Linked DNA regions of Homo sapiens. The protein of the gene in region 1 purifies or fractionates together with the protein of each later gene. This does not show direct contact. Each region holds a gene or a part of one and is shown in the gene's direction. Other genes may lie near its edges.

Region 1 (3,730 bases):
AGTCAGAATGATCGATGGTAGCTAAAAAGTATCTTGAATTAATTAATGTATGTCCTCACTTTTTTAGATGCTAAAATTGCTGAGAGAAGCGAGGCTCCTCGCCTCTGTCTGACCCCAAAACATAAGTTTGTCTGGGGTCACAGAGGTCAGCTGTATGCTGTTACTATAGTTTTCTGGCTTAGGTAGAAAAGGATAACAAATTTCTAAAATTGTCACATTAAATAGGATGTGGGGAGCATGTTACAGTGTATCTTTTGTCCCTGTGGTATTTATTATTCCACATTTCTGGAAAAGAAACCGTTAAACAGCAGTTTCTAGTTTATATTATGTTCTTTTGTATAGATTGCCGTTAATTTTGTGTGTGTGTGTGTGTGTGTGTGTGTGTGTGTGTGTGTGTGTGTGTAAGTCCGTAAGTCCAGATACTAAAGCTCAGTTTATGATTTTAGGGTTCAGCTCCAGAGATTGATCCTTCATCTGATGGTTCAAATTTTGGATGGGAGACAAAGATCAAAGCATGGATGGATCGATATGAAGAAGCAAATAACAACCAGTACAGTGAGGGTGTTCAGAGGGAGGCACAAAGAATAGCTCTGAGATTAGGCAATGGAAATGACAAAAAAGAGATGAATAAATCCGATTTGAATACCAACAATTTGCTCTTCAAACCTCCTGTAGAGGTAAATACATCATTTGTCCAAAAATTGTAAAGCAGTTTTATATTGTGAATTTTTAGTTAAACTGAAAACAAGCAAGTTTATTTAATCTCAACATTTACTCTGATTTTAGAGCCATATACAAAAGAATAAGAAAATTCTTAAATCTGCAAAAGATTTGCCTCCTGATGCACTTATCATTGAATACAGAGGGAAGTTTATGCTGAGAGAACAGTTTGAAGCAAATGGGTATTTCTTTAAAAGGTATATTCATTTATTTTCCCATGTTCATTTTCTGTAGGTAAATATTGAACTTTTGGCTGTTTTACCTAGATGTTGTGATTATATGTACTTTTTTTCCTACATGATCATTTCAGTATTTAAAGCTGTAGTGTGGTTGAACAGTGACTGATGATAATTTTTGAACTACGATAAACTAAAACAACATAAAAAAATGCAAAGATATATTCCGGTCTCTTGCTCATGTCTGTCTTGCTGAAAATCCTAAAACAATCTACTTCAAAGATTAACCAACAGCAATATAGGTTGGATATAGAAGGATATCAGTCAGGAATTCTGATTGATTGAGATTACAAGGAACCCTTTCCATCTGGGACTCATGATAATTCCTCATAACGTAATAGCCGGAATGGAGAAAGACCATGGTAACCATAGGAGAAACCCCTTCCTCTTTATTAGACAGTGTTAGATTGGGTCCTACATTATTGCCACCACTTTCAACACCCACTTTGTTGGTATTGGAATGGTATTGGAGGTCTCTTCTTTGGTTTGAGATTTGTATGCAGAATTAATATGACCCTTTGATAGGCGTTGCTTCCCTGTAGTCTAGAAGTATGTTCATATCTGTAGGAGAACATTCCTAGTCTGTGTCCTACAATTATCAAAAACATTTATTGTTTATAACTTGAATATTTACTTAAGATATGAAAGATACACAGCAATTTCTCCCTATTATGTAGCAGATTTGATCTGAAACGGTATAAGACAGATACTTTTAAATGCACCAGGAAATGTGAACTCTAAAGACATCAAATTAATCTTGTGAATGCAGTAGTCACTCTCTTTTTATCTTTCTTTGTAAATTGGAATTTCTACCTTCCATTAATTGCCTTTGATTTAGGTGAGGTTATGGGGCAGGTAAAAATCTCATTAGCATAAACTAGCATAAGATAAGAGTGAATTGTGGAGTCAGACTGCCTATATTCAAATCTTGGCTTCACTATGTCTTTTAGAAGTTTCTTAGACTCTGTGTTCTTAAGTTTCTTCATCACTTTGCCTCTGAAGAGTAACAGATTATTGTCCTAAAATGTTGACTTTTGTTTGTTTGTTTGTTTTTGAGACAGTCTCGCTCTATCAGTGAGGCATGATCATGGCTCACTGCAGCCTTGATGTCCTGGGCTCAGGTGATCCTCCCACCTCAGCTTCCCAGGTAGCTGGGACTACAGGCACATGCTACCATGCCTGGCCTTTTTTTTTTTTTTTTTTTTTTTTTTTTTTTGTAAATACGGAGTGTCGCCATGTTGCCCAGGTTGGTCTTGATCTCCTGGACTCAAGCAATCCACCTGCCTCGGCCTCCCAAAGTGCTGGAATTACAGGTGTGAACCAGCATGCCCGGCCTAAAATGTTAATAGCTTATAATGTTTCTTTCTTTGTAGACCATACCCTTTTGTGTTATTCTACTCTAAATTTCATGGGCTAGAAATGTGTGTTGATGCAAGGACTTTTGGGAATGAGGCTCGATTCATCAGGCGGTCTTGTACACCCAATGCAGAGGTAAGCTTATAGAAATTTTTTGGGGAGATGTGGGTGCTGGGGGTGTGTTGGAATCTGAGCAATAAGCACAAAACTCAGGTCACTGACCTAAGACACTTTCCACCTGTTGGTGCATTTTATACTGCCCAGCCTGTTTTTTTGTGAAAATTTATGTGATAACTGGCTATGAAGTCTTTTTTTTTTTTTTTTGAGACGGAGTTTCACTCTTGTTGCCCAGGCTGGAATACAATGGCACGATCTCAGCTCATGTAACCTCCGTCTTCCGGGCTCAAGTGATTCTCATGCCTCAGCCTCCCGAATAGGTGGGATTACAGGCACGCACCACCATGCCCGGCTATTTTTTTGCATTTTTAGTAGGGACGGGGTTTCACCATTTTGACCAGGCTGGTCTCGAACTCCGGACCTCAGGTGATTTGCCCATCTCAGCCTCCCAAAATGCTGGGATTACGAGTGTAAGCCACCATGCCTGGCCGCTATGAAGTCTTAAAAATTACTTTGCACCTTGAAGAAATGATGATGCTCCTTATAAGAGGAAATATTGGACTTCCTTTTTTTTTTTTTTTTTTTTTTTTTTTTTTGAGGCAGTGTCTCACTGTCTCCCAGGCTGGAGTGTGGTGTCATGAGCACAGCTCACTACAGCCTCCGTGACCTCTCATGCTCAAGTGATCCTCCTGTCTCAGCTTTCTGAGTAGGTGGGACTGCAGGCGTGTGCAACCATGCCCAGCTAATTTTTTAAATTTTTGCAGAGATGGAGTCTCATTTTGCTGCCCAGGCTGGTCTCCAACTCCTGGGCCAAGTGATCCTTCTGCCTTAGCCTCCCAAAGGGCTGGGATTACAGGCATGAGCCTGCCCGGACTTTTTAAATCATTATTATTATTATTATTATTATTATTTTTGAGGCAGGGTCTTGCCTAGGCTGGAGTGCAGAGGTGCAATCATGGCTCACTGGAGCCTCAACTTCCTGGGCCTTTAGGAGGTAAAGTTATCTTCTCACCTCAGACTTCTGAGTAGCTGGGACCACAGGTGCGTGCCACCATGCCCAACTAATGATTCTTTAATTTTTTGTAGAGTTGGGTTCTCCCTATGTTGTCCAGACTGGTCTGGAGCTCCTGTGTTCAAGCAATCCTCCTGCCTCGGCCTCCCTAAATGCTAGGATTACAGGCATGAGCCACCAGGTCCAGCCTAATACTGGACGACTTTCCTTCTATCTTGGAAGCTCTATTTATGGCTCAATACATGCGATGATTTAAGTTAGATGACAAAGCTAAAATCTAAAGTAGATT
Region 2 (3,500 bases), on another chromosome or scaffold:
CAGTTGACTTCAACCACAAGAGGGAGATGTAGGTATATCAAGAGAAAAGCTAAAGGCAATGCAATTGGTATTATTTTATTCTTTGGAGAAAAAATAAGAAACACAGTTTTTGTTTTGGTTACCAGAAATTTAGAGCAACTTAAAACCGTCAAATAGGGAGTGTTTTCAAAATTAATTATTTGCATAGTAAGGGGGAAAGTATGGTATAAGACATAAGAGATTTTAAAAATTTATAGGTTAAGTATACACTCTACAAAACGGGTATCTCCCTGGAGATGTTGCAAAGGAGATGAATTTTTTACGTATCAAATTACATGTTCTTGACCTGCTATTTAACACAACTTTGTGGATGGGTTGTTCTTTTGTTTTGTAACGTGATATGGTTTGGCTCTGTGTCCCCACCCAAATCTCATCTTATAGCTCCCATAATTCCCACATGTTGTGGGTGGGACCCGGTGGGAGATGATTGAATTATGAGGTTGGGTCTTTCCCGTGCTGTTCTTGTGATAGTGAATGGGTTTCACGAGATCTGATAGTTTTAGAAACAGGAGTTGCCTTGCACATAATGTAATTACCATCTAATATAACTGCCCTGTATGTTTAAAGTTAGTCCCTTTGAAAGGGAACTCAATTCTAGTTATGATTTTACACACTTCATGTGGCACTCAGAGCATTACTATATAATATTTTGGTGTTTAGTCTCTTACAGGCTCGTTTTGTTTTATCTGTACATTAAGTTCATAGCTATTTTGTGTTACATTACAATAGTCTCAGGATCTTTATATTAAGAAATATTTAAGACAAATAGACTGAATTTTAGACACTTATAACCATAGATTAATGAGGAAAGGATGGCTATGTTGCAGGGCAAAAGAGTGAGGGTCGTGATCAACTCAGTATACCACTGGAGGCTATATGAGTAAACAGCAAACTGTTCGCATAAACGCAGAAAATTGGCAAACTGACAAACTGTGTCTGCCACCCAGAAGGAATGCTGAGGGCAGTCAGGCCTCAGGTGCAGGTGTTTCTTGTGATTAGACACATCTGAAGCCTGTTAGCAGTAATGTGAACCTGTGATCAATTAAGCAGCTGACCAATTGTTACCTCGTCCTCCCTGCTCTTTCTACCCAATAAATATGAAGGGCTGTAGAAGCTGAAGGCAGCTCCCTTTGCTCACTAGAAGCAGGGAGCTCTCTTCTTCTTCTCCTGACCCCTTCCTTTAAAATAGTTACTTTTGTTTTAAGTTTTCATTTCTGCATTCGTCCTCCTTCGTTCAGTCTCGTAGTAACCGTGGCAAACTGCAGCATGGCTATTTGAGTAAATGGTATTGAAGGATTCAACCATTTTGGAAAAAAATCAATTTGTGTCCTTTTAATTATATAACAAAAGAAATTTCAGATGGATTAGAACTAAATAGAAATGAAGCAATATTGGTGAGTCTGATCTCTGATTTGGAAAAGACTTTGTAAGCATAAAAATAATGAACCAAGTTACAAAGTAAAAGTTTGATAGATTTGATGACATACAGGTTCAAATGTCTGAAACAACAAATAAAAAAAAAAATCAAAGTAGGAAAATATTTGCAGCAAGTTGCCCAAAAACTTACAACATATATATAAGATCAAGTATTAATTTATTAATAAAAATATACCAGTTGCAAGATGGACAAAAGTTATAAAGTCAAAAGAGAAAATTTAAATGATCTTTTTTTGTTAGATACCATTAAAATTATTATTATTCTTATTTATATTTTTATGTATTTTTTTGAAACAGAGTCTCACTCTGTCACCGAGGCTGGAGGCACAATCACGGCTCACTGTAGTGTCGACCTCCCAGCTTCAAGCAATCTTCCCATTTTAGCCTCCCAAGTAGCTAGGACTACAGGTGCGCTCTAACATGCCTGGCTATTTTTGTAATTTTAGTAGAGATGAGGTTTTGCCATGCTGCCCAGGCTGGTCTTGAACTACTGGGCTCCAGTGATCTGCCCACCTCTGTCTCCCAAAGTGTTGGGATTACAGGCATGAGCCACTGCACTAGTCCAAAATTATTTTTAAATGGTGATTTTCTTCTGGGAAGTATGTAGAATTGGTCAGTCTTTTTGATTGAACTTTTCTGGATGAGGTTAAATCTTGCTGGAAAGCCTTTTAGCAGTACTATGTATTAACAGTAAATACATTTTTAGGAATGTGACCTAAAGAAACAATCAGAAATGCAATTGAAGCTTTTGTAAAAAATGTTCTTTGGAAGATTATAATGGCAAAAATAAGTGACCGAAATATCAGTAAAGGGAAAGGATCAAATACAGTGTAGACACAATAAAATGTTTTTATAACTGTTAAACATTTAGTTTAGAAAAAAATTTTTATGTCCTGGGTAAAAACCAGGATATAGAACTGAGCGTATAGGAATGTATATGGGATATCAGCTTTGTAAAATACATATGTATATCAGTACTTACCATAAGACAGGGCAAAAAGAAAAATAAAAAAAATACATATGTGCATAGAAAAACTTATATGGTTAGCAGGATGTACACCAAAATATTATGTCAGTTATCTCTGAGTAATGGTACTCTGGAAGATTTTTATTTTCTTCTTTATACTTTTTTGAAGTTACTGGATTTCTTATCAATGAGCATGTCTACTTTTATAGTTAGAGGAGGGAACACCTTATAAATGAAGCTGCTTATTTTTTAAGTAAGAGAAGCTATTATTGTTTACTTGAAATGATATAAAATATTCCTCTTCTTAAACTTTCTTATAGCCATTTAAATGGATGTTCCCTGGAAATGCTAAGCAGGCCTTCCCTACTTATCACAGATTCATTCAATGCTACATATGTACAGCCTAGAAGAAAACAGAGAGATGAGCAGCTTCTGAGTACGTATTCTTTCACGTCCTTATTATTATTATTATTTTGTAACTTTTTGTATATTTAGGGAATATAAGTACATAAAAGTACAGGTTTCTTTTTTTTTTTGAGACGGACTTTCGCTCTTTCACCCAGGCTGGAGTGAAGTGGCGCGATCTCGGCTCACTGTAACTTCCGCCTCCTGGGTTCAAGTGATTCTTGTGCCTCAGCCTCCCGAGTAGCTGGGATTACAGGTGTGCACCACCACGCCCAGCTAATTTTTGTATTTTTAGTGGAGACAGGGTTTCTCCATGTTGGCCAGGCTGGTCTTGAATTTCTGACCTCAGGTGATCCACCTGCCTTGGCCTCCCAAAGTGCTGGGATTACAGGCATGAGCCACCACGCCCGGCCACAAGTATAGGTTTCTTAATGCATACGTTGCACAGTGGTGAAGTTTGGCCTTTTACTGTATCCGTCTCCAGAATCGTGAATGTTGTACCCAATGTATAATGTCCTTTTCAAGGAGCTGTGGAAATGCATGGTAGTGGGAATGACTGTATTCTGTTTAGCACTTTTCTTGGTCATAAGAGATTGGTTAACTTTAGTATTTTTGAAAAAAATATTATGTGACCATCAGTTTTTGTATAAGA
Region 3 (3,730 bases), on another chromosome or scaffold:
GAAATCGTGCTGCGCCTGCTAATCTGAGAACTCTCATGTAACACATGATTATTGCCCGTGATAAACAAAAGTGTTTCATTCATGGACACCTTTAGTCTCAGCCTCCAGCCTTCCATGTTGAGGGTTTTTGGCCAAATTATGGTATAATTATTGAGCTTGCAGTTCCTGCCAAGGGCACTGGGCCCCAGAGACTGGGCATAGGCTTATTTGGTCTTTGCAAAACCCCAGGACATCAGTCCCTGTTAGGTGATTGCCTGTGAGTATGTGGCCAGTCAGAGAGCCCAAAATTCTACCCAGAGAACCTGCTCCACTTAGACATACTGCTCTATACACCCGTAGGGACGCCACTTCAGGGTGCAAGTTCAGAGCGAGCATATGTGCCGTGCATGGCGCACCGTGTGCGCGCATGCACTTGCATGCACAGGTATGCATGGGTGCATATGTATGTTGTACATGTGTATATCTGCATGTGTATGTGCCTGTGTCTGTGTGCAAGTGTGTATGCATGCGTGTGCGTGTATGTGTGCGTGTGTGCGTGTGTGCGTGCACGCGTATATGCGTGTGCGCACCTGTGTTCCTGTGCGTGTGTGTGCACAAGTTTGTGTGCGTGTGTGTGCGCACGCACGCACACCTGTGCATGGTGTAGTGTATGTGTGTGTGTTCTTCCTTATTTGAAAGTTGTTGCCCTCGGAGCAGCCATGCAGCCCAGCAGTCCTTGAAGATCGAGCTGACTATGACGTTGCTGTCTTACCTGGTACGTCTTGGCTCCACAACTTCCTGGTGTGTAGAGAGCCAGCCGGCTGCCTCTGATGAGGCTGCAGCCCGAGCCAAGCCCTGTGACAAGTTACCATCCACAGGCACCAGCTAAAAAATTCTTGGAGAAGCAGATCCAGCATTTAATGGAAGGTTCACAGATTGTTAATAACGTTTCTATTGCAATAGGGTGACAGAAAGGCCACCTGCCTCAGGTAAAAGGAAAAGACCTCTTACCAGCCTTCTATTGATAAGGTCCACAATTGTGGGGCAGGAAAAGAAGAGTCTGGCCCTCCTCCTCTGTGCATGTGGCCAGAGTTCACCCTGGTTGAACTTCTGGAACAGCCACCCCAACCCCCTTCTCAAACCCTGCATCTTGTGCCTGACCCACAGCCCAGTCTATGGAGACAGGAGCATTGGAAGGCCGCATTTTGATAAGAATGAAAATACTGGCTGTCACTCCTGCCTGGAGTTACCAGGCCCCCTGCCACTGCGTGGCTGGCTAAGATGCCAGTTTCCCTCTTGCCATCACCAGGGACAGTGGGTCTGCCACATGCAGAAAGATGTTTTTCCTCTCTTCCAGCCAGATGACACTTTCAGAGCATGGAAGAAACACCAACATTGAAGAGTCCCATTGTTGTTTGAATCTTTTGTATCAGGCTTCTCGAGCTAAGCAGGACCACCAGGCGTTTTCTTATTTTTTACATAAACAGCACTCCTACTCAGTGACACGTAACCTAAGATCACATTGCTTCTGTTTCCTGGGTTTTCCACCAGAGCACCTTTACGAAAGACATATGACAAAGCATGCTCAATTCCTCACCGTATTGTGAAACTGTTAACCATGGCTAATTGTTTGATGATCAGGCTATATTGCTCCTTTCTCAGGAGCATAAACCAGGGTCTAGCAAACTTTCTTTACAGGGACAGACAGTAAATGTCCCAGGCTTTGAGGGTCATGCAGTCTCTGTCACAGCTGCTGAAGTCTGTCAGAGTGCAAAAACAGCTGTGAGAGTCAGCTCAGGCTGCCGTAACAAAAGGCCACACACCAGGCTGTTTAAGAATTTGCTCTCACAGTTCTGGAGGCTGGAGGACCAAGATCAAGGTGTGGGCAGGGCTGGTTCCTTTGCGAGGCCTCTCTCCTTGGCTTGTAGAGACTGTCTTCTCTCCATGTCTTCACGTGCTCGTTCCTCTGGTTGTGTCTGTGTCCTGATCTCCTCTTCTCATAAGGACACCAGTCCCACTGGGTTAGGGCCCACCCTTGTGACCTCCTTTTACCCTGCTCACCTTTTCAAAAGCCCTATCTCCAAATACAGCCACATTCTGAGGCCCCTGGAAATTGGGGCTTCAAGATATGAATTTTAGGGGGACATAGTTTAGCCCATAACAGTAGCCATAGACAATTTGAAAACATGGGCAGTGGCTGTGTGCCAGTCACACTTTATTTATGCAGAAGCAGCCAGGGACTAGGTTTGGATCATGGGCTGTAGTTAGCTGGCCCCAGTTACAAAAAATAACTGTCACCCAGGCTGGGGTACAGTGGCACAATCATAGCTCACTACAGCCTCAATCTCTTGGGCTCAAGTGATCCTCCCACCGCAGCCTCCTGAGTAGCTGGGACTACAGGTGTGCACCACCAGGGCTGGCTAACTTCTTGTTGTTGTTGTTGTTGTTGTTTTTATAGAGATGGGGTCTTGCTATGTTGCCCAGGCTGCTGTTGAACTCCTGGTCTCAAGCAGTCCTCCCTCCTCAGCCTCCTGAGGCACTGGGATTTTAGGTGTGAGCCACTGCACTTAGCAAACTGTTTTTATTCCTCAATGAAATTTAGAGACTGTCAAAATGTAAAGAAACCTAAAATATTTACTAAATTGCACTAAAGCCACGATTTCGTTAGAATCATCAGAGGTAGGCCGGGCGTGGTGGCTCACGCCTGTAATTCCAGCATTTTGGGAGGCTGGGGCAGGTGGATCACTTGAGGCCAGGAGTTTGAGACCGACCCTGGCAACATGGTGAAACCCCGCCTCTACTAAAAATACAAAAATTAGCCTGGTGTGGTGGCACATGCCTGTAATCCCAGCTGCTTGAGAGGCTGAGGCATGAGAATTGCTTGAACCTGGGAGACGGAGGTTGCAGTGAGCCGAGGTCGTGCCACTGCACTCCAGCCTGGGCGACAGAGCAAGATTCCGTCTCAAAAAAAAAAAAAAAAAAAGAAAAGGAATCATCAGAGGTAGTATTTAGTACATAAAAAAAATGTTTCTGGAAACAAAAGAGCCCTTTAAGTGTGTTTCTCTTGTATTGGTAAGCCACTTGTCTCTTTGTGTTTGCTGTGACAGATAATCACGCGAAGCCAATGGAAATAGATGGAGAGGTTGAGATTCCATCCAGCAAAGCCACAGTCCTTCGGGGCCATGAGTCTGAGGTGTTCATTTGTGCCTGGAATCCTGTCAGTGATTTGCTAGCCTCCGGGTAAGGATGTCAGGGTGGGGGGCGCTCCAGAGTTGGGGAGATGGGAGATGCAAGCTGCTCGCCCTTCTCTGGAGTTCTGCCTAAAGGAACACACACTCCCCTTCTTACCCCGGTGTGTGGGCAGACCAAGGAATGGGTGGCTCTATGAGCCACTTCTCTACATGTCTCATATTGTGGAGAAGCCATAGTTCCAAGTCGTTTTCTCCATGTGGTGGTGAGGAACACAGCAGCACTTAAATTACCAAATGCAAAGATGGCAAAGAGGGAAACAGGGATCCAGAGGGATGAAAAAGACAGAAGAGCATGTGCTGAAGATGCCCTCTGGCCAGAGAGCAAGCTGTGGAGAGCTTCTTATCCCATTTGAACCAAACACCAGAGGCTCCTGTGTTTTTATTCTGTAGATCTGGAGACTCAACTGCAAGGATATGGAACCTGAATGAGAATAGCAACGGGGGCTCCACCCAGCTCGTGTTGAGGCACTGTATACGAGAGGGGGGCCATGACGTCCCGA

The links.
Region 2: the proteins of KMT2E (region 1) and CPSF2 purify together in Homo sapiens (affinity purification with mass spectrometry, with the first as the bait; one large-scale study listed by BioGRID). This does not show direct contact.
Region 3: the proteins of KMT2E (region 1) and TBL1X purify together in Homo sapiens (affinity purification with mass spectrometry, with the first as the bait; one large-scale study listed by BioGRID). This does not show direct contact.

Annotation. Positions count from the first base shown.
Region 1 is NC_000007.14:105,076,517-105,080,246, forward strand, and holds part of KMT2E (inactive histone-lysine N-methyltransferase 2E), read left to right. Parts: intron 1-446; coding exon 447-677; intron 678-786; coding exon 787-917; intron 918-2,329; coding exon 2,330-2,447; intron 2,448-3,730. UniProt on the Homo sapiens protein: Associates with chromatin regions downstream of transcriptional start sites of active genes and thus regulates gene transcription. Chromatin interaction is mediated via the binding to tri-methylated histone H3 at 'Lys-4' (H3K4me3).
Region 2 is NC_000014.9:92,135,469-92,138,968, forward strand, and holds part of CPSF2 (cleavage and polyadenylation specificity factor subunit 2), read left to right. Parts: coding exon 1-28; intron 29-2,763; coding exon 2,764-2,879; intron 2,880-3,500. UniProt on the Homo sapiens protein: Component of the cleavage and polyadenylation specificity factor (CPSF) complex that play a key role in pre-mRNA 3'-end formation, recognizing the AAUAAA signal sequence and interacting with poly(A) polymerase and other factors to bring about cleavage and poly(A) addition.
Region 3 is NC_000023.11:9,688,493-9,692,222, forward strand, and holds part of TBL1X (F-box-like/WD repeat-containing protein TBL1X), read left to right. Parts: intron 1-3,086; coding exon 3,087-3,219; intron 3,220-3,620; coding exon 3,621-3,730. UniProt on the Homo sapiens protein: F-box-like protein involved in the recruitment of the ubiquitin/19S proteasome complex to nuclear receptor-regulated transcription units. Plays an essential role in transcription activation mediated by nuclear receptors.